2 separate regions of the Homo sapiens genome follow, and region 2 is linked to region 1. The links come from fine-mapping of genetic effects on gene expression. A gene starts in region 1. The other region holds a variant in brackets. All regions are shown on one strand. Distances are from middle to middle.

What was found. PIP is the estimated chance that this variant, and not a neighbour inherited with it, causes the effect.
Region 2: its variant is fine-mapped to the expression of TICAM2-AS1 in sigmoid colon (GTEx, PIP 0.92).

What each region holds. Positions count from the first base shown.
Region 1 is chr5:115,596,497-115,606,350 of GRCh38, forward strand. TICAM2-AS1 (TICAM2 antisense RNA 1) reads left to right here and starts at 5,659. Exons shown (of 3, transcript NR_109875.1): 1 at 5,659-5,964; 2 at 6,550-6,660. All of the region lies in intron 3 of TMED7-TICAM2 (TMED7-TICAM2 readthrough), which reads right to left. TICAM2 (TIR domain containing adaptor molecule 2) reads right to left here and starts at 5,983. Exons shown (of 2, transcript NM_021649.7): 1 at 5,601-5,983. RefSeq lists enhancers at 5,305-5,384, 5,333-5,855 and a silencer at 5,475-5,974.
Region 2 is chr5:115,471,945-115,481,798 of GRCh38, forward strand. No RefSeq gene overlaps it. Among named protein-coding and RNA genes, the nearest start is that of FEM1C, 68 kb to the right of the region's middle. RefSeq lists an enhancer at 8,495-8,544. The variant T/C (reference allele first, on the strand shown) is at 5,223.

The DNA.
Region 1 (9,854 bases):
AGTTGTCAGAATCAAAGTGGAGTTACTAGTGTTAAAAAACCGGACAATCAGAGCCAGGAAAGGCCATGAAGGAAAGGTTCTTAAATATAAATGCCTAGTAACCAGAACTATCATAAAAGTCTCCCCAAAAACCAGAACCTTGGCTGGGCGCGGTGGCTCACGCCTGTAATCCCAGCACTTTGGGAGGCCAAGGTGGGTGGATCATGAGGTCAGGAGATCAAGACCATCCTGACTAACATGGTGAAACCCCGTCTCTACTAAAAATGCAAAAAATTAGCCTGGCGTGGTGGCGGGTGCCTGTAGTCCCAGCTACTCGGGAGGCTGAGGCAGGAGAATGGCGTGAACCTAGGAGGTGGAGCTTGCAGTGAGCCGAGATCACGCCACTGCACACTCCAGCCTGGGAGACAGTGAGACTCCGTCTCAAAAACAAACAAACAAACAAACAAAAACAGAACCTTGCACAAATGCCATCACAGTCCTATATAAAAAGTACTTCTGCAAGAACAACTGCCCAGCAACTTCCTGTCCAATTTCAGACTGGTGCCACCCTTGTTATTTACCCACAAGCCAAAAATAATTATCTCAAAACAATTATGTAAACCTCCTCATTTTTACTTTGAAAATCTTTGTCTGCCTTTACTTCCCTGAGTACACACAATTTACTATGGCACACATATTCCCACTGCAACGCCCATTTCTGAATAAATATTACTTTCTTTTAGAGAGCCTCTATCTCCCTCTGTTATTTAGGTTGACAGACCTTTTTGTCAGTTTCTCAAACTGGCTTAGCTTTCTCTTGTCATGCAATCTATGGAGATATTTTCTGGCATATTTGAAGTATGAGTTATATGACTATATTTTATTATCATAAGAGATCTTGTACAATCATAAGCTAGTCAAAATTCCATTGGAGGTAAAAATAAAAATATCCAAAAACTGGGGAATGATAATATTAACTATGTCACATTATTCATATGATCGAATCCTATTAAACCATTAAAAATGTTTATGAATGTTATGAACAATTTTAATGACATGAGAAAAACGCTTCTCATGACACGAAAATGAAATGTAATTAAAGAAAAGGAACTGACTGTAAAATAGTATACAGAATATGATCTCAGCTTTGTTAAACAAAATGCAGAGAAAATAGATTAGAAAGAAGTACTGTCGTCTCTTGGTATACTTAAGGGTAGGGAAGACTGATTCCAGGGGTTCCAGGACCCCTGCATATACCAAAATCCAAGAATACTCAAGTCCCACAGTCAGCCTGCAGAGCCTGCGTATACAAAAAGTCAGCCCTCCGTATGTGTGGGTTTTGCATCCTGGAATACCGCATTTTTGATCCATGTTTTGTTGGAGAAAATCCACATATGAGGGGACCCACATAATACAAACCCATGTTGTTCATGGGCCAAGTGAATACCAAAAAGGTAACATTGATCCTCTGTGAATGGTATATGCATAAGAATATATAAATGTGTATATATATGTATTCCTTCATATATATGTGAAGAACTCACGTGTTCTTCACATGTACACATATATACACATACATGTTCACCTTTTGAACAATGATCACACAGTCTGAAAAAATAGTTTTTTAGTAAATAAAAATTCATTTTCTAGGCTTTATATTTTTATAAATATCAATTAGGTCAATAATTGTCAACAATTATGTCAATTATGTTGATTTGATTTCCATCTAAATAGTATCTTCCTTATATATATCTTTTCCAACACCTTTGGTAAGTGTCTTCCTTACATGCTCTATCTCTACGTTCCAAATGAGTTTAGCCTATCTCCAGGTTTAGCTCTATTTCATCTGTTTTTTATTTATATGCAAATATTCCAAGAGCATGGGTTTGCTAACTCTAAACCAAACAGGGCTTCTCCAACACTCTTCTTAAGTACCAAAGGACAGAACATTCATCTTCATCGTACCTAAAACAGGTCCTTGAGCAAGTAAATGTTTAAAAAAATGCTTCTATCCGATCTTCACCTGGGCACTGCTTTTTCATCTTGTGGACCCTATCTCTTCACTCAGTTGCTAGGAAGCTCCACGTTAATGAGTGCTCTGGCCAACAGACAGAAGCTTATGGCAAGTGTTTTGATACTATTAATAACTTCACTCCTAGTTTCTGCTTAACCCCCCTACTCTTCTCTCTGTTCGATATTCCAAATCTACTTATTATTTAATTTAATTTAATCTTATATTGGAAATATTTATTAAAGTATCTTAAATCCTAATTCTGAAATAAGAAGGAATTTTCTTCTTTTCTTTTACAAGAAGGGGTGATAGTACATACGCTACTGATAACAGAACCAGTTCCTTGAGATTAAAATGAGAAATAAGGATTATAAATTAAACAATCTTTTAGTTGCTACACCTCTTCATAAAGATGAAAATATTGTTTTTCATTTCTACATAGTCCTCAAAAGAGAACTGGAGCCAGATGCAGTGGTATGTGCCTCTAGGCCCAGCTATTTGGGAGGTTGAGGTGGGAAAATTGCTTGAGCCTGTGAGTTTAAGACCAGCCTGGGCAACATAGCAAGACCTTGTCTCAAAAAAAAAAAAAAAAAAGTTCAATTTATATAATATCTTATAAAATCTTCACAACTCTGACATTGGCTTAGTCACTGCAGAACTTAGAAACTTGTATATTATTCTCTGAACAAGTGTCTTTATTTTTCTTCTTCCCATAAACTACCTGCTGCTGGTACCATTCAAAGAGTCTCCAAATGTTAGATTATTGCTTCCTATTTCCTATTGCCCCTATTGGTGGGGGGAGGGGGGCAAAGTAACTGCCCCCCACCAAATATTATTACATATTCTTTTTAGTGAACTGGATATTTTTCTTCCATTTTCTGTATCTAAAAATGAAAACTGATGGTAAAGGGCAAATCTCCAAATCAGGAAGAGATTTTATAAAAACATAGAACTTAAAGGCAAACTGTCCATCTTATCAAAATTAGGCTCAAAAGAAAAATGGTTGTGCATTTTTAATATTAGGGAACTCAAGCAACCAACAATGTTTTAAAGGTTCCATAAGCTTCATGGAATACTAGAGAGTAGCATTCAGTATTTAATAGCAACCTACCGCACAGGCCCAGCAGCAAAAGAGATCTTGCTGCAATAGCACAGTAACCCCTGAGGCAGCATGCTAACAGAGAAGTGAGGGAGTACAGTGTGCAATGGTCTAGCAGACACCAGCTGCAGGCAAAGGCAACAGCAGCACAATCAGTGTTACTACAGTGGAGTGGATGAGAGGGAAGTCAGGAGATGAGTTCAGAGAACTAGTCAGGGACTAGATCACACAGGGCTTTAAAGCCATTGTAAGCCTGTTTTTCTTTTCTTTTTTTTTTCTTTCTTTTTTTTTGTGATTCTGATAAGAAGCCACCAGAAGGTTTTGAAGGGAAATGAAAGTTCTGAGTATGTATGACAAAAATCACTGCTATTTGGAAAAGACTGTAGAGGAGCAAGGGCAGAGGCAGAGACTTCTCAATCATGTAGGTAGGAGAGGACTGTGGCTTAGCTTAGAGAGGGAGAGAGAGGTGGGCAGATCTGGGTAGAGTCAACAGATTTTGTTGGATGCTTGGATGCGGAGTCTGACCTAAAAAGAGAAGTCAAGAGTAAATTCCTAGAATTCCGGCCTACTTGAATGGCAGTAACTGAGGCTGTTTATTGAGATAAGGGAGGGAGCTGAGGGGAAACAGAGGGAGAACTTGGTGAATCTGGCATCAGTAGTTCTATCTGTCCATACTAAATTTAAATGCCTATCAGACTTCCAAGTGGAGATGCTGAGTAAACAGCTGGACATACACATACATCTGGAGCTCAGAAGCGAACTAAAGCTAGGAATAAAATTTTGGAAGTCATCAGCTGATAGATATTATTTATAGCCAAGGAATATGGCTTGGGATACAAATTGTCCTGGGGGAAAGTATGGCTAGAAAAATATGGCCAAGAAATGAACTCTGTGGCATACTAAGATTTAGTGGTGGGGAAGCCTGGAGACACAATGAAGCAGAATGAAATGCAGAATATGGTGACCTGGAAGCCAAGTGAAGAAGAAAGAATATTAGTGAAGAACATTAGTGAAGAAAAAAGAATATTGAGGAGGGAGTGATCAAATGTTACTGAGGGGTCAGGAAAGATGAGAACTGTGCACAGACACTGGATTTCACAAGACAGTCATTGGCAACATCAGGACCATGCAGGGGGTAATGGGGACAAAAAGCCTCAGATGAGAGGGGGTAGGAAGAAACAGGGAAAATGAAAATGGAGACTTAGATTAAATCTTTCAAAGAGGATTTTTGTTTGTTATAAAAAGAAGCAAAGTAGGGGAGCGGGACCTAGAATGGGATGTGTGGTCTAGGGGGGATTAAAGACAGAAGATTTAACAGCAGATATTTGTTAAATGAATACATTTTAAGAATAGCATAAGGAACAAATGACTCAACACAGATGCCCATGATTCAACAGTGTAAACATGGTTTATACTTCAAGTTCCATACGGTAAGGCGTACATGTCACATTTACTTTGCTTCAAATGTAGGTGTCAATATTCTATACCTGCTTATCTATTTTCTGATTTGAATGAGATATAAAGTGGAGTTGCTTAACTCCATTTATAACCATCCTACTACTTCAAAATATTAAAATGTAAGGATTGATGGGCTGATAGGTGCAGCAAACCACCATGGCACACGTTTATCTATGTAACAAACCTGCAAGTCCTGCACATGTATCCCAGAACATAAAATTAAATTAAACAATAAAAAAATAGAAATACAGATTCTGGAAATCAAGCTTACCAAATTAAACCTTCAGAGGTGGGGGGATGCATTTTAAACAAAAGTCCCAAATGCGTCTTACCATCAGGCTTGTTTGAAAAACACTAATCTAAGGAATACTAAACACTTGGAGAAGGACAAGTTCTTCTCCTGTGTAGACGTGCAATGTGGGTTCAGGGGATGACACTTCAACTCTATATAATGGTGTATTTTTACCTCCAGATCATATAGCCTTTCCCACCCTTGCTTTTCAAAATTAAAAGGATAAATTAAAAAATAATAATAAATATGAGAATATTTTAAAATACTTTCTTTAAGAAGTTTACTACCGTGGAAAGCTGGAGAGGTCCTAATACACTGAAAACTAGCTCACAGCTGCCAGTCAAATTATTTTTATCCAAATTAGCTTTGCACAAAAAGCCAAGTAGGAAAACCCATGCCAAAACCTCCAGCACTGGCTCTGTGTGCCTGGCAGGGGCTCATGCAGAGCCTTTAGAGCATTTAAGACTCTGGGCTATTTGCTTATGGTTCTGAGGTGTCTTTTCGAAAATGGGTTTTCTAGTCAAAATGAAACAAAAAGGCAGACAGCTGTGTGGATTTTCCCTTCAGAGTAAGCCAAGTGACGGAAAGGCCTGCCCGCCCCGCTGGGGACAACAGCGCCAGCACCCGCGCCGTCGGGTCGGGTAGGCTGGGGAGGTAGCGCAGGCGGCCTGGCCCCCAGACCACCCCGCGCCCCTGGCGGCCTGGCCCCAGCCCACCCCGCGCCCCCGGCGGCGGCCCCCGCCCTAGCGCCCGGTACTTGCCTGCAGGCGAGCGCCACCACAGTCAGCCCGCGGCTTTTCTGTCTTCCTTTCTGGCCCAGCGAGAGCGCCCAGGGGGTGGGCGTCTTGCCCCGGGCGTCGAGAGTTTGGGGCCGTCCCGTACGCGGCGCGCCGCAACCCAGTCCCCGCGACCACAGCAGCCTGCTCCCCACCGCGCTTGCAGAGCCCGGACGCGCGTGAGTCGGGGGCCCGCAGAGGCCTCACCCTTGGAGGTCGCCGCTTGTCAGGCCTGACTGCTGTTGGCGCCCACCCCGCCGCCCCCGAGGGGCCGCTCGAGGCCGGACTGCTGCTTTGCCGTGGCAGGCCCCACCCGGGACGTGGCGCTGCGGGCCGGGGCGGTCCAGCTGTGAGTCAGGGGTTAATGTGGCGGGATAACTCTCTGCAGAGGGAAGGAGCTCGCAAAGAAGGGTGGAGGAGGGGAAACCGCAATGGGGAACTGTCACCGAGGCTAGTGGACTCTCCCTGCGCTTTTTTTTTTTTTTTTTTTTTTGGCATGTACCCCAAAAGCCAGAGGTCGAGGCCCAGAAAAATCTGGAAAGGAATTCCACCGTGTTTGCTCCTTACAGACCAGACAAACCGTAGATCTTTCAGAGGTACAGCGACTCTCCTGGTTCCCTAAGATAGTCTCGACTTTTCCTTTCCCTTTGCGGCCCTCTCACTTGACTACTGCAGCCAACCATACCCCTGATTAGGGGGTGCAGCACATCAGCCTCTGCCCCCAAAAACTACCCTGCGAAAGATCCTTTTTCTCAGGTTCGTTCTCCACAACCGAACAGATTGGAACTCCACTGAATAAGAGAGAACAAAAAAGCAATTAGTTAAATGAAGCGTAAAGAAGCCTTATAAAGCCCCATTGCTGCCTCAGGCACCCAATCTAGTCATAACCTAAGAGGTCCAGTTCAGAAATCTCCCCTCCCCTTTTAATTCTCAGGCAATCCCTACTCCCTGCCAAAGGAGAACCCAGTTACTGAACATCGGATGAGACCATGGATAGTAAATTGGGAGTGAAGGTCCATACCTGGGTCTCAGAAGCACAGTACAGGTAAAGCTAAGAGTTATTTCCTCCTTCTCTTTCCCCATCCAACAACAGGATGCCTTACTGAAGGTAGGCACTTCAGGTAGTAATTACTTAGTGAAATGCCGCCAATGTAGTCAGAAATACCGTATTATGTACCGTGTCAACACAATTCATTATTCACGGAGTTGATTCTCCAACCACTGCACCTCCCAACAATTCTACCTGAACTCTTTGGGTAAGCAGTGGCCTCCTAAATCCAACTGATACTTTTGTTGCCCTCATTTTTCCTGGGAGTCTCTTTGGCGATTGACAAAGTCGACCATTGTTTCCCAACACTCTGTTTCCTTGATGTTGACAACCCCACTTTGCCTTTATGCTCATCCTGCTTGTTAAAATTCTTTCAGGCCTGTTGGGAGGCCGAGGCGGGTGAATCACGAGGTCAGGAGATCGAGACCATCCTGGCTAACACGGTGAAACCCCGTCTCTACTAAAAAATACAAAAAATTAGCCGGGAGTGGTGGCAGCTGCCTGTAGTCCCAGCTACTTGGGAGGGTGAGGCAGGAGAATGGCTTGAACCCGGGAGGCGGAGCTTGCAGTGAGCCGAGATCGCGCCACTGCACTCCAGCCTGGGCCACAGAGTGAGACTCCGTCTCAAAAAAAAAAAAAAAAAAAAAAAATTCTTCTTTCAGTTTCCTCTGCCTGTTCCTCTTTCTCTGGCAACCCTTCAAAATCAGAGCTTTTCACATTTTCCCACTGAAATACCACCAATGACAGATTCCATAAACACGTACTTCCCTATTCATCACTTAGGTTGCATACATAAAAGAGCCTGAAGTCACTAGTGTCATGGGCAAATTTACTTGAACTGTTCCATCTTCTTGTAAATTGCTCCAAATTTTGCATTGTTCTTCATAATACAGTCACATGTACTAAAAAAAATCTTAAATTGGTTACAAGTTTAATTGCTTAACATTTTCTCTCCAAATGTTCAAGAAAATGCATCAATCACTTACGCCACATATGTTTAGAATATATTCTATGTGCTAGACATTAGGGATATTGTGCGAACAGGAGACACAGTCCTAGTTCTCATGGAGATTTTATAGTCTAATCTGGGAGACAGACAGATATGTAAAGAAGTGAGACAATTTCAGATCCGTGCATTGCTAATGGGGACAGCGAATCTTCCTAGTGGGCAATTTCTAGCTACATACCTGGTTATTCACATTCAAGAAAGGAGGGGACGACATGACAAACTGATAAATATACTGACTTACAGGCAGTGTCTAATGGATTGTCCAGCTTTTAGGTTCTTGGAAAGAACAAAATGGAAAATTTGTAAAAGATCTGTCCGTGAGACTTACAGATAACCCTCTTGGAGTGGTGAGGGCATGTGAAGATATTCATATCCCCCATAAGTGCCTAACAGGATGCATCAGGTGGAGAAGATTTTCAATAATAAGCGGAACAAGATGAATTGTCTGGTAGATGTCAGTCTTTTTCTCCAGCCAACCCAGGGCTTGGTTAATGGGCCCATGTACCAAGTGGCTATCAAAGCAGTGACAGAGGTTCAATAGTATGGTCTTCTCCTTACCTACATTATTTGGCTACTATCATTGCCGAATGCCCAACCTGGCAACAACGTGGAGTGTGACTACATTTCCAAGGCTGGGTTCCTAATATGGCATTACTGTCAATGAGACTTGCTGGCAACCCGGTAACATGATGGTTACATTGGGCAATTTCCATAAGAAATAGGTAGCACTTTGTCTTCACAAAGATAATTCACATTCAAGGTATAAATCTGCATTCTCTGCCTGCAGTGTTTCCACTGGCACTAATATTCTTGACATTTCTGAAGGTTTTATCCATTGCATAGGAATCCCAAAAACATTTCTTCCAACCAGGTACACAGTTTATGGCAATGGAAGTGAATTCAATGGTTTTAACACATGCTTATCTCCTAAAGTAACTAGCTTGATAGAACAGCTGAGTGGCAAAATGAGAGCTCGGTTACAGAGATATCTGGGAGGCAACATCATGAAAAGGTAGGGTGGTGTCCTATAGAATGTGGTACATTAATTTAATAAGCAGTCAATATATGGAGCTGTCTCCCCACTATCAGGATGCACAGGTCTCAGAGCCAAAGGGTAGAAGGAGTGTTTCTGTTCAATAGTATACCTAAGAATCTACGTGAATAATTTTTGCTTCCCATTCCCAAAATGTTGGGCTTGGTGGGTTTAGAAATTCTAGAGTCCAAGAGTAGAACACTTCCTTCAGGAAAAATAATCATGTTTTGATGATTTAGGAGCCGAGACTGGCCCTGGCCTTTTGAGGTTCCTCATGCCATTAAAGTAACAGAAAAGCAGCTCAATGGACTGGCCAGGGTAGCTAATTCCAGTTATCAGAGGAAAACTGTGTTTCTGTTTTACAATGGAAACAAGAAGGCTATATAGGCTATATATGGAAACGAGGAAATTCACTGGAATGCCTCTTAGTGCTAACAGTCCTAGTCAGTGGAAAACTGCAGCAACCCAGTAAAGACAGGCCTATCAACGGCTCAATTCTGTAGAAATGAAGGTTTAGGTCACTTCATTAGACAAAGAATCCCATCTAGTCAAAATCCTGGAGGAAGGTAAGAAGAAGGATTACTAAGCTTGATTATGGTACTTTATTCCCCCAGAAATAAAACCAAAAGATGGTTTACTAGGACGTTCAAAATCAATAAACTTCTAGCCAGATAAGTCAAGAAAAAAGAGAGCAGATGCAAATTACCAATATTAGAAATGAGAGAGGGACATGACATTCCAGTTATTAAAAGGTTACTAAGGAAAGATTATGAACAACTTTATGCCAGCAAATTCAACAATTTATATGAAATGGAAAAAATCCTTAAAAGCCAAACAGTCAAGATGAAACAGATTATTTTAAAAGCCCTAAATCTATCAAAGAAATTAAGGTGTAGTGAAAAATGTTCCGAAAAAGAAAACTTCATGTCCAGGTGACTTCAATGGTGAACTCTACCAAAACATTTAAGGAAGAAATGATACCAATCCTACACATACTCTTCAAAAAAATTCAAAAGGAGGGAATACTTCTGAAATCATTCTATTAAGCCAGCATTAGTATCATACTAATCAGACAAAAGACATTACAAAAACAGAAAACTAAAGACCAACATCGCTCATGGATATAGATGTAAGATTCTAAACAAAATT
Region 2 (9,854 bases), 120 kb before region 1:
AGAGTGGCATCCAGATACCCTGAGGGCGTGTAACACTCCAACTTTCCCCATATGTCTGGAGCTATGTGGAGTTTCTCATTTGCTAAATTGGGCCAAGTCAGAAAATTTAGACCTGAGTTCTAATTCTAGCTTCGCTTCTAAATAGCTCACTTAACTCTCTAGGCCTTAATATCCTCAACCAGAAAATATAGAAGTTGGCCTAGGAAGCTACCAACATCCCTCCTGCTCTGACATTCTGTGGGACTGCACTTCTCATGGCAATTACCATCTGGTGGTTGTACCTCAGAAAATATTCTCTCTGGGCCTCAGTTTCCTCATTTGCAAAAGTGGTGCCCATACAATAGACACCTCACAAAGAGGTTGTGGATTTCAAGCGGGACTGTGTACATAGAAGCAGACAGCACAGTGAGTGCACACAGTAGGAACTCAATAACTCTTAATTTGTAACATCTCCCAGAGTCTCCATCTGTGAAACAGAAATAATACTTGCCAATCTAGCTTGTGAAAATGTATATAGAGCAATGAATAGAGAACGAAAGGGGCTTGGAATTAAGAAAAGCAAATGCAAATGACAGGAGCTATTATTATGCAAAAATGGACTGAAGTCAGAGTTTAAGAGCAGGAGCAGATTTGATGTGCCTGATTAATTTATTAAACAGACTAAAACCATAATTAGAGAAGTCTGCTTAAACCCCTGGACTTGTCTCAGATAAGATTAAAAGAGGGAAGGCAAAAGAGGAATCTCAGATGTTTCCACGGCTTGCTGGGCCCAGAAACGAGGCCAAGAGGAGAGAGGGAGGCCAAGGGAGGGGCAAGGGTGCTAAAATGACTGTTAGAGGAAAGGAGCTGCCGAAGCCAAGGGAGCAGCTGGGAGTAGAGGCGATGACAGCTGAAGAAAGGGATTATTTCAGAACTGTTCCCTGTGGCCTCTTTAGCTTTGGCTCTCATTAAAATGAGGGGAATGAGCTAGAGGAAATCTTGCTTCCCTTTTTATGAGAAAGGGTGAGCCTTGTTTGCCCAGGAGGGGAATTGCCACAAAAGAAGAGTGTGCCTGTCTCAGCTTAGAAGTCCTACAGAGAAGGAGCACTCATACCCTTAGGCAATGGGTCCTCTCATGGAGGCCCCGAGGGAAGCAGGTGCCATGGGCTGATCGAAGCTCTTGGGCAGAAATCCAGGCTTGGCTCTAGGTTATTTTTTTCTAACATTTTATTATGAAAAATCTCATATGGCACAGTTGAGGGCACTTTTTAGTGAACACTGGCATAGCCCCACCTAAATTCTATCATTATAGTTTTACTATCTGTGCTTTGTTGCATCTGTCCATTCAGCTATCCCTCTACCCATCCATTACTTCTTCCTAATTTTGGTGCATTTTGAAGTAAATTACAGGCTTCAATATGTTTCCATCTAAACACTTCATTTGATGTAAAATTTACATGTTATGAAATGCACAAATACTAAGTCTACAGGTGCCTCATTTTGACAAACATATGCACCTGTGTAACCCAAACCCGTATCAAGATACAGAACACCATCACCTCAGGCTTGACTACAGATTTGCTACATGACCCTGGACAAGATCTTGCTTAACTTTGATCCCAGCCTGTCCCCAGCCTTTCTGATCATGGAACGCTTTTTCCAAGTGCCATGTTCAAAAATTTTGTCTTAAACAATTAAGCCTACATGGAACCTTAAATACCATTTAGTTCAAGCCCCCATATTCTAGTCAAAGGAATCTGAAGATTGGATATATTATTTATCCAAAGTCTCTAAATTGGTGGCACAGTTATAACAGGAAATTAATATTTATTGAGCAACTTCTCCAAACCAGGAAATATACTAGGTGCTCTATATGTGAATGTGAACCCTCACCACAACCTGCCTCACAGGACTATTGTAAAGATGAAATAAGATTAAATATGCAGAGTGCCTGGCACAGAGCAGACACCAAATGTCATCACTGCTTTTCTCTTGAGCCCCACATTTACATTTTAACACGTTCATACCGCTGAGATAGTAAATGTAGATGCTTCATCCCATTTAGTTATCACAATAACCCTGTGCATGCTTTACAGGTGACGATATTGCTTGTTTCTGATCATTATTAGTGAATGATGGTAGCACTAGGACTCAGACTCAGTCTCCTGACCTCAAATAATTTCAGGCAGTGAGATTTAGGAGCTTTGTTTATGTTCCTCCCAGGCCATCTGGAGCTAGAGTGGAAGGGCAATTTGAAAATGCTATGAAAGATATATTTGGTTTAAGTGACAGAAACCCAACTTAAACTGGCTAAATAGAAGAAAAGGGAATGTGTTGGTGCCTATAAGAGAAAGTTTTGGTAATGATCTAGCTTTAGGCATGGCATTGATTGATTTAGGGCTTTACATGATGTTACCAGGGATCTGACTTTCTCTCTCTCTGCACTCCCATCCCCTCAAATTTTCTCGTATCTCGGCTCCGTTCTCAAGCAGCCCCACCCTCATGGAGGCAAGATGGCCATCAGCAGGCCATGGTTTACATCTCTCCAGATTAGCAATCTCAAAAGAAAAAGAAAATTTCTTTTGCAATATCTGGCAAAAATCCAAGGATTGGTTTTACTGAACCAGGTTGTTTTATGTGTCTATTCTTGAAACAATCACTTTTTCAAAAAGGACAGAATCTATTAACTGGCCACCACGGGTTATGAGCTACTGCTGTAACCAGAGGTGGGGTCACCTCCTCCGGAGCCCCACAGACTGAAAAGAAGAAAGAGATGGTGTCCCCTATGAAAATCAACATGCTATTATCAGAAGAAAGGGAAAAGGGATGCTGGGAAGCAAAGTCTAGTTAACAAAAACAAGTTCAACAAAACTAGTTGGTGACCTGGATCAACTTGAACTATTGAAAGTGGGTTTTCCAGAAAAGTTTCTCCCAGATATGATTGCTCATCCAAATCTCTGGAAGAGTTGTTTCAATACAGATTCCATGGCCCCACCCAAGGCCTACAGAATCAGAATCCCTGCTGCCAGGGGTCTTTATGGAGTTTTGCTTTATTTTTAACACAGGCATGATTGATTCTATCACTGGCCATTGGTGATTGAATTCACTCTCTAGGGCCTCTTCCTTCCCAGAGTGGGGAGCATTGAAAGCTGCAAACTTCTAATTACCTGTTTGGTCTTCCTGGCCTCCTGCCCCATCCTGAAGCTATCTAGGGGCCCATGAAAGGTCACATCATTAGCATAAACTCAGGTATAGTTGAAAGGGGCTCATTATGAATAACAAGATACACTCCTATCACTCAGGAAATTCCAAGGGTTTTAGAAACTGAAGACAAAGACCAAATTTTTTTTTATTTTTTTATTGTCTTAAACAAGCCTACATGGAACCTTGAATACCATTTAGTTCAAGCCCCCATATTATAGTCAAAGGAATCTGAAGATTGGCGATATTATTTATCCAAAGTCACTGAACTGGTGGCACAGTTACAACAGGAAATTAATATTTATTGAGAAACTCTATAAGAACACAGTTCTTATTAGAGGTTTATAGATCATGCCTAAAAAGGGAAGCTCAAATGACAATCCATTAGGGTAAAGTCCAGCTGAAGTTCTTACTGCCTCATATAACCACTAAGAAAATGCTGAGCCATTCCCTTATTCCCTGATTTAATAAAGGATTTGGAGTCAAAGAATCAATGCATTCATGTGTTGACCTTCCAGGGAACTTACCTGATTTGTCTCAGGCATCCTTAGTGCCTTAGCCCAGGGATCCCAAGATACATGAGGTCCACTCCAAACCCTTCCCAGGAAGGTCTCTAACCATCTATCCCCAAGGATGCCCAGTGTCATGCCCCACCCCCTCGCAGTACTCTCTTACTTCCCTCAGAGATGTTCAGGCATCAGTGAAATTCTCAATAACAACTCCATTTTAGAGGTGTTTTTCCCCCAGAGGAATTACTATGATGGTAGCCATTTTGAATGTCAGGCCATGAGGGAGCTACTTCTGCTTACATGGGCCTTGTGGCCATCATTCCTGGGGCATGTGAGGTAGGATGTGAAAGGGCATGTGCTCATAGCTTCTCTTTTTCTTAGCACAGATGACTGAAATAAGAAAAGGTTGAGGCAAAAATTAGAAGAAGTCAGCAAAGTTTCTTTGGGCCATCCATCTCCTGTTTTGGTTCCCTTCTCCCACAGTCTTTCCCTTCCCCTTTACAGGTTCCCAGTGACTTCCTCCTTTCATACCTCACTGGAAGCAACATAGGAAAGGGACAGGGAAAGGAAGGACAAAAGAGAAGACAGAGCCCAGGGACACTCAGCATGGTGCAGCCAAGGGAAGCATGAAGTTGAGAAGAACCAGGACAAGTGACTTTTGATTGAGTTGACGTTGATATTGCTCATACATGAAAATGATATCAGAAAAAATTACCGGAAAGCAAATTGCAGATTCTTCAAAACTCAATATGTGGGAAGAAAAGAACCAAAAATGCATTTTTGCTGAGTAAAATGAATAGAAAAGTCATCTTGTTCTATAATCCCAAAGTAGACTCTAAAATTGGTCTCCATATCATTGGCACCACCCAGGTCTGTCCCAGCCACTGTCACCTGGACTCTCTGTGCCTATTCTTTTCCCATCTATGGCATTCATTAGAGAGGCTAAAATTTGTGTGGGATCTTAGAGGGAAGAATGGCATGTAGAGAAAAGCATCATGAGACAGGGACTCAAAATGCAGGCTCTAGTCTCAAAAAAAAAAAAAAAAAAAAAATGCAGGCTCTAGTCCCCCCCTGACAGTGATTAGTGTGAACTGGGATAAATCAAATCCCCATTCTGGGCCATAGTCTCCTAAGCTTGGATGATAATCTTTAAGATTACTTCCAGCTTTTATGTTTCAAGAGACAATGCATTCTGTGTTCATTCCCCCCCGATTCAATAATTTCTCCTAAAGTGCTCTAAAGTAAACGTACTCGTCTTAGCTTAGACACATGAGTGACAGAGAACTCTGCCTCCCAGGGCATTTACTCCTTGTTGGTCGATTTGTGGTTTCAGAATATGCCTCTCTGTAGTTTCCTCCCATTGATCTTAGTCTGGACACTAGAATAATCCAGAACAAGAGACCCTACCTGTCCACATGATAGCAGTTTAAATATTTAAAGACATTATCCTGACCTCCATTCTCAAGTTACCCTCTCCACTTCCTTTCACTCTATGTAAATGATTTTCAGACACCTCAACATCTTTCTTGCCTA[T/C]GCGGGGCTCCTCCCTAGTTTATCAATGCCCATCTTAAAATGTAGTTGCCCAAATTAAATTGTATATCCTTGTGATCTCAGCAGATAGCTCAAAGACTATCTCTAGTAATCTCAGAAACTGCTTCTCCGAATGTTTTGGTTTTATTAGTAGTGAAACAACAGCATGCACTGGCTGTTGATGTGGTGCTGATGGTGGTGGCTGATGTTTAAACCAGCTACATTATACTGTTGCTTCTCAGAGGTGGGGTTCCAGCTGAGCCTGAACTGGATTCAAAAGTTGCAAGTACAGTATATGAAGGATGGCTATTAATGGTGACCCACCGGCATTGATCATTCTGTAGCAGGTGATTTTCATGGAGGAAGAAGCCTGTGGGAGGGGTCTGGTGCCAGAGTGCCTGGGGATGGAAATGTGAAGTAGTGAGGACACGAGAAGTCAGTCAAAATTGTAGCCTTTAAGATAGCTTAGATCTGCGGAGAGTGGGGTTGGGAGTTAAATTAGGGTATACACAAGACTATGTGGGCCCGGGCACAACAGCCGACAGAAACTGGAGGAGGCAGCACCCTCCCTATTTCTGCTCATGACCTAGTGGAGTCCCATGGAACACCCTGCAGGCAGTAAGCAATAGGCAAGGGGGCAGGGGCAGGATCTGTTCCTAATGTAGCATGGGTGACATTTGGAGGATTCCAAGGAAAGCTTATGGGCTCTCTGAAGATGAACATGATCCCGTCTTTGGCACTGCCGGGGAAAACTGAGCTGGTAAGGTTCAATTATTACCGGTAATGAGAGCTCATTGGAACCAATAAACTGATGATGCAAATACTATTTGGGGTATATTAATATTAACTAACAGTTAATGTGACCTCTTTCAAATTCATGTCAATTTAAGACATTCAAGACTTCTCTGAAAAGTTCCCAGTAATGTCAAATATGCTGGCTTGCCTACTATACTTTGAGTAACAAGGAATTATAACACATGGCCATAGATCTCTAAAAGAATAGTATTGAGCTAAACAGTGCCCTGAACTTGAACTACAGGGTTGGTTTCATTGCTCTCTGCTTTGCTTCCATTTTTATAAATCCTCAGAAACTTCCCCTTACTTGCTAAAATTTAGACCCTGCTCACAACATTTTTGCCATCTTTGTGTGGTTACTGAAAATAAAGAGAAAACCTCATTTGTAAAGGAAATGCCTAGGAAGCAAAGCTGTCTACTTTTGGGAAGGGAAGAAATCTCCTTTTCTGAAGGACATATTAAAATTAATCATAGAAACAGATTTTGAACTTTCATCATATTTGACCTGACATTTGATTTTCCAGAATGACTAATAAATGAGAGAAGAGAGAAAAAGCGAAGTCATTTGAATATGATCCCTTCCCTTCCTTAATCTCAATATAAACTATCTAGGGTTGTGAAGAGACTTTAAAACGTAAAATCAAAACATGTGCTGGTGAGCTTCTAAATCTTATCATTTTGGATCCAGGGTGGTGCAGAAATGAGAGGGGTAGATGAGGGACTACAAAGAACAGAGGTTGTTTTCACCCTGGGTGACACACCCTGTTCTCACTCAGGTCCCAGCCCAAGAGGTTCGTTTTTCTTCTTTAAGTTTTGTCAGAGAATATTTTTAAAAAATAAAACATCTTTTTTTTTTATTTTTCCATAAGTTATTGGGGTACAGGTGGTATTTGGTTACATGAGTTCTTTAGTGATGATTTGTGAGATCCTGGTGAACCCATCACCTGAGCAGTATACACTGCACCATATTTGTAGTCTTTTATCCCTCACCTCCCCTCCCACTCTTCCCCCGAAGTCCGTAAAGTCCACTGTATCATTCTTACACCTTTGCATCCTCATAGCTTAGCTCCCACTTATCAGTGAGAACATACAATGTTTGGTTTTCCATTCCTGAGTTACTTCCCTTTAAATAGTAGTCTCCAATCTCATCCAGGTCATTGCAAATGCTGTTAATACATTCATTTTTATGGCTGAGTAGTATTCCATCGTGTGTGTGTGTGTGTGTCTGTGTGTGTGTATACATATATACATATATAACAGAGTTTCTTTATCCACTCATTGATTCATGGGCATTTGGGTTAGTTCCACGATTTTGCAATTGTGAATTGTGCTGCAATAAACATGTGTGTACAAGTATCTTTTTCGAATAATGACTTCTTTTCCTATGGGTAGATACCCAGCACTGTGATTTCTGGGTCAAATGGTAGTTCTGCTTTTAGTTCTTTAAGGAATCTCCACACTGTTTTTCATAGTGGCTGTACTAGTTTACATTCCCACCAGCAGTGCAGGATTGTTCCCTGATCACTGCATCCATGCCAACATTTACTGTTTTTGATTTTTTGATTATGGCCATTCTTGCAGGAGTAAGGTGGTATCACATTGTGGTTTTGATTTGCATTTCCCTGATCATTAGTGATGTTGAGAATTTTTTCATAAGTTTGTTGGCCATTTGTATATCTTCTTTTGAGAATTGTCTATTCATGTCTTTAACCCACTTTTTGATGGGATTGTTTTTTCTTACTTATTTGAGTTCATTGTAGATGCTGGATATTAGTCCTTTGTCAGATGGCTAGATTGTGAAGATTTTCTCCCACTCTGTGGGTTGTCTGTTTACTCTGCTGACTGTTCCTTTTGCTGTGCAAAAGCTATTTAGTTTAATTAGGTCCCAGCTATTTATCTTTGTTTTTATTGCATTTGCTTTTGGGTTTTTGGTCATGAAATCCTTGCCTAAGCCAATGTCTAGAAGGGTTTTTCCAATGTTATCCTCTAGAAATTTTAGTTTCAGATCTTAGGTTTAAGTCCTTAATCCACCTTGAGCTGATTTTTGTATAAGGTGAGAGATGAGGACCCAGTTTCGTTCTCCTACATGTGGGTAGCCAATTATCCCAGCACCTACTCCCCTCAAGCATCACACTCTAAAATCTCACACAGAAAACTCTTCCCCACAACCAACCTAAAACATAAGGCAGACACTCAGGGGCTAGAACACAAGCAGAAAGAAGCTTTACATTACACTCAGGGGTCGGGGGTACACAGGCACACCCACCATCATTAGAAGGCCATCTCTGACAAAGACAGCATCAACTCAGGCTCAACCTCCAGGGCAAGCTCGGCAGGGCTGGCCTTCCTCCTGCTTCTGCTACTATCTTGAAGCCCTGGGCTTGGCCCCTCCACCAGCAGTACCTTGGTAACCCTGCCCACTCGGGCTCAACTGACTTTTCTTCTGACAGTATGTGAAGAGCAGGTATGTTACACAGCACTTCCCCTCCAACAGAGGCTCTCTAAGCACTCTATACCAATATTAGCTTCAGAAGGTGAAGACCAGCTTCTTCTTTCAGCTAGCCAGGCCCAAGCAAGTCACGGATGAGAGAACACATAACTTGCATACAGATAGTAGAAAAGCAGCTAACTCAAGTAAAGCGTAGCCAGGCAGGAATCTAAACTGGGATGGGTGACTGATAAAGAATTTACTATGCCCTTCTATTTCAGCCTGCCAGTCAAGTGGTTGTTCTGTCCTTCCATTTACTTATATTCTATTCCTTACCTATTTAAAAAAATGAGGACGTTTATGACAAAAATCAAAAATCCAACTGACCCATTAAAACAAAAGTGGAAGAACCAAGACTTGGATTGAAAAACTAGGAAAACACTGACTTATGAAGCCTAAGCTATAGACAAATCATTGCAATCATCCCCCAAATTAGCTCTGTGCTCCTGGTAGTCAAGGTGAAAAAAGGAAAACTATTAATTTAAAAACTGTCATCTAATAAAAGGAAACACATTTTTTCATTAAAAGAAACAAAAATTTTTCTACCTGTAAACTCTAAGATGACCTCTCTACATATTGGGTTTTCCTAGTTATGATTAAATCATAATAAGAATGTCTTGTTATTTTGGGAACTGATACTGCTGTATGCCAGAGAGTCAGAGGCCACTGTCTTGCTTCTGGGTTTTACATATGCTGCTATGTAGGGAATATGTAATGACATTATGATGTTTAAAATTATACTTCTGAAATGAAAATGAAATATTGAACCTGAAAATCCAAACAACTCTAAAAATTAGCATCTCTTAGAATATCAATCATTTCCATATTACAGTCCCAGTGTCTTATGGAAGGAAGGTCCTTGCATGTTAAATATGGGGTAGGTGAAGCTCATCTCCTGAAATCTACTTTCCTATTTTTTCCCCACAGATGATGATGTTTAATTTTTAATGTTTTATTTTGGTAAATTAAAAAATTGTGATAAAATATACATAACATTAAAATGACCATTTTGACAATTTTAAGTGTACAATTCAGTGGCATTATGTACACTCATTTTCCCTTCCATTGATGCAGCCCCATCTCCACCCTAGACCCTCCTATAAGGAGAAAACCGATAGGCATTATTATTTTTATTGGAACTTTATATCTATTTACCTCTTAAAAAGAAGTTTTTCTCAAAAAGTGATGTTGATAATAAAGGAATGCATGAGGGATTTTCAGAGATGAGAGACAATGAGGCAAAGAAGTCTGGGTAAGAAGCCCTTCCATATGTCCTTAATAGAATACTTTCTTTCCCCCTGCCATCTTGGGGGTATAAGGAAGAAGGATGAGATTTAGAATTGCTACTTTGC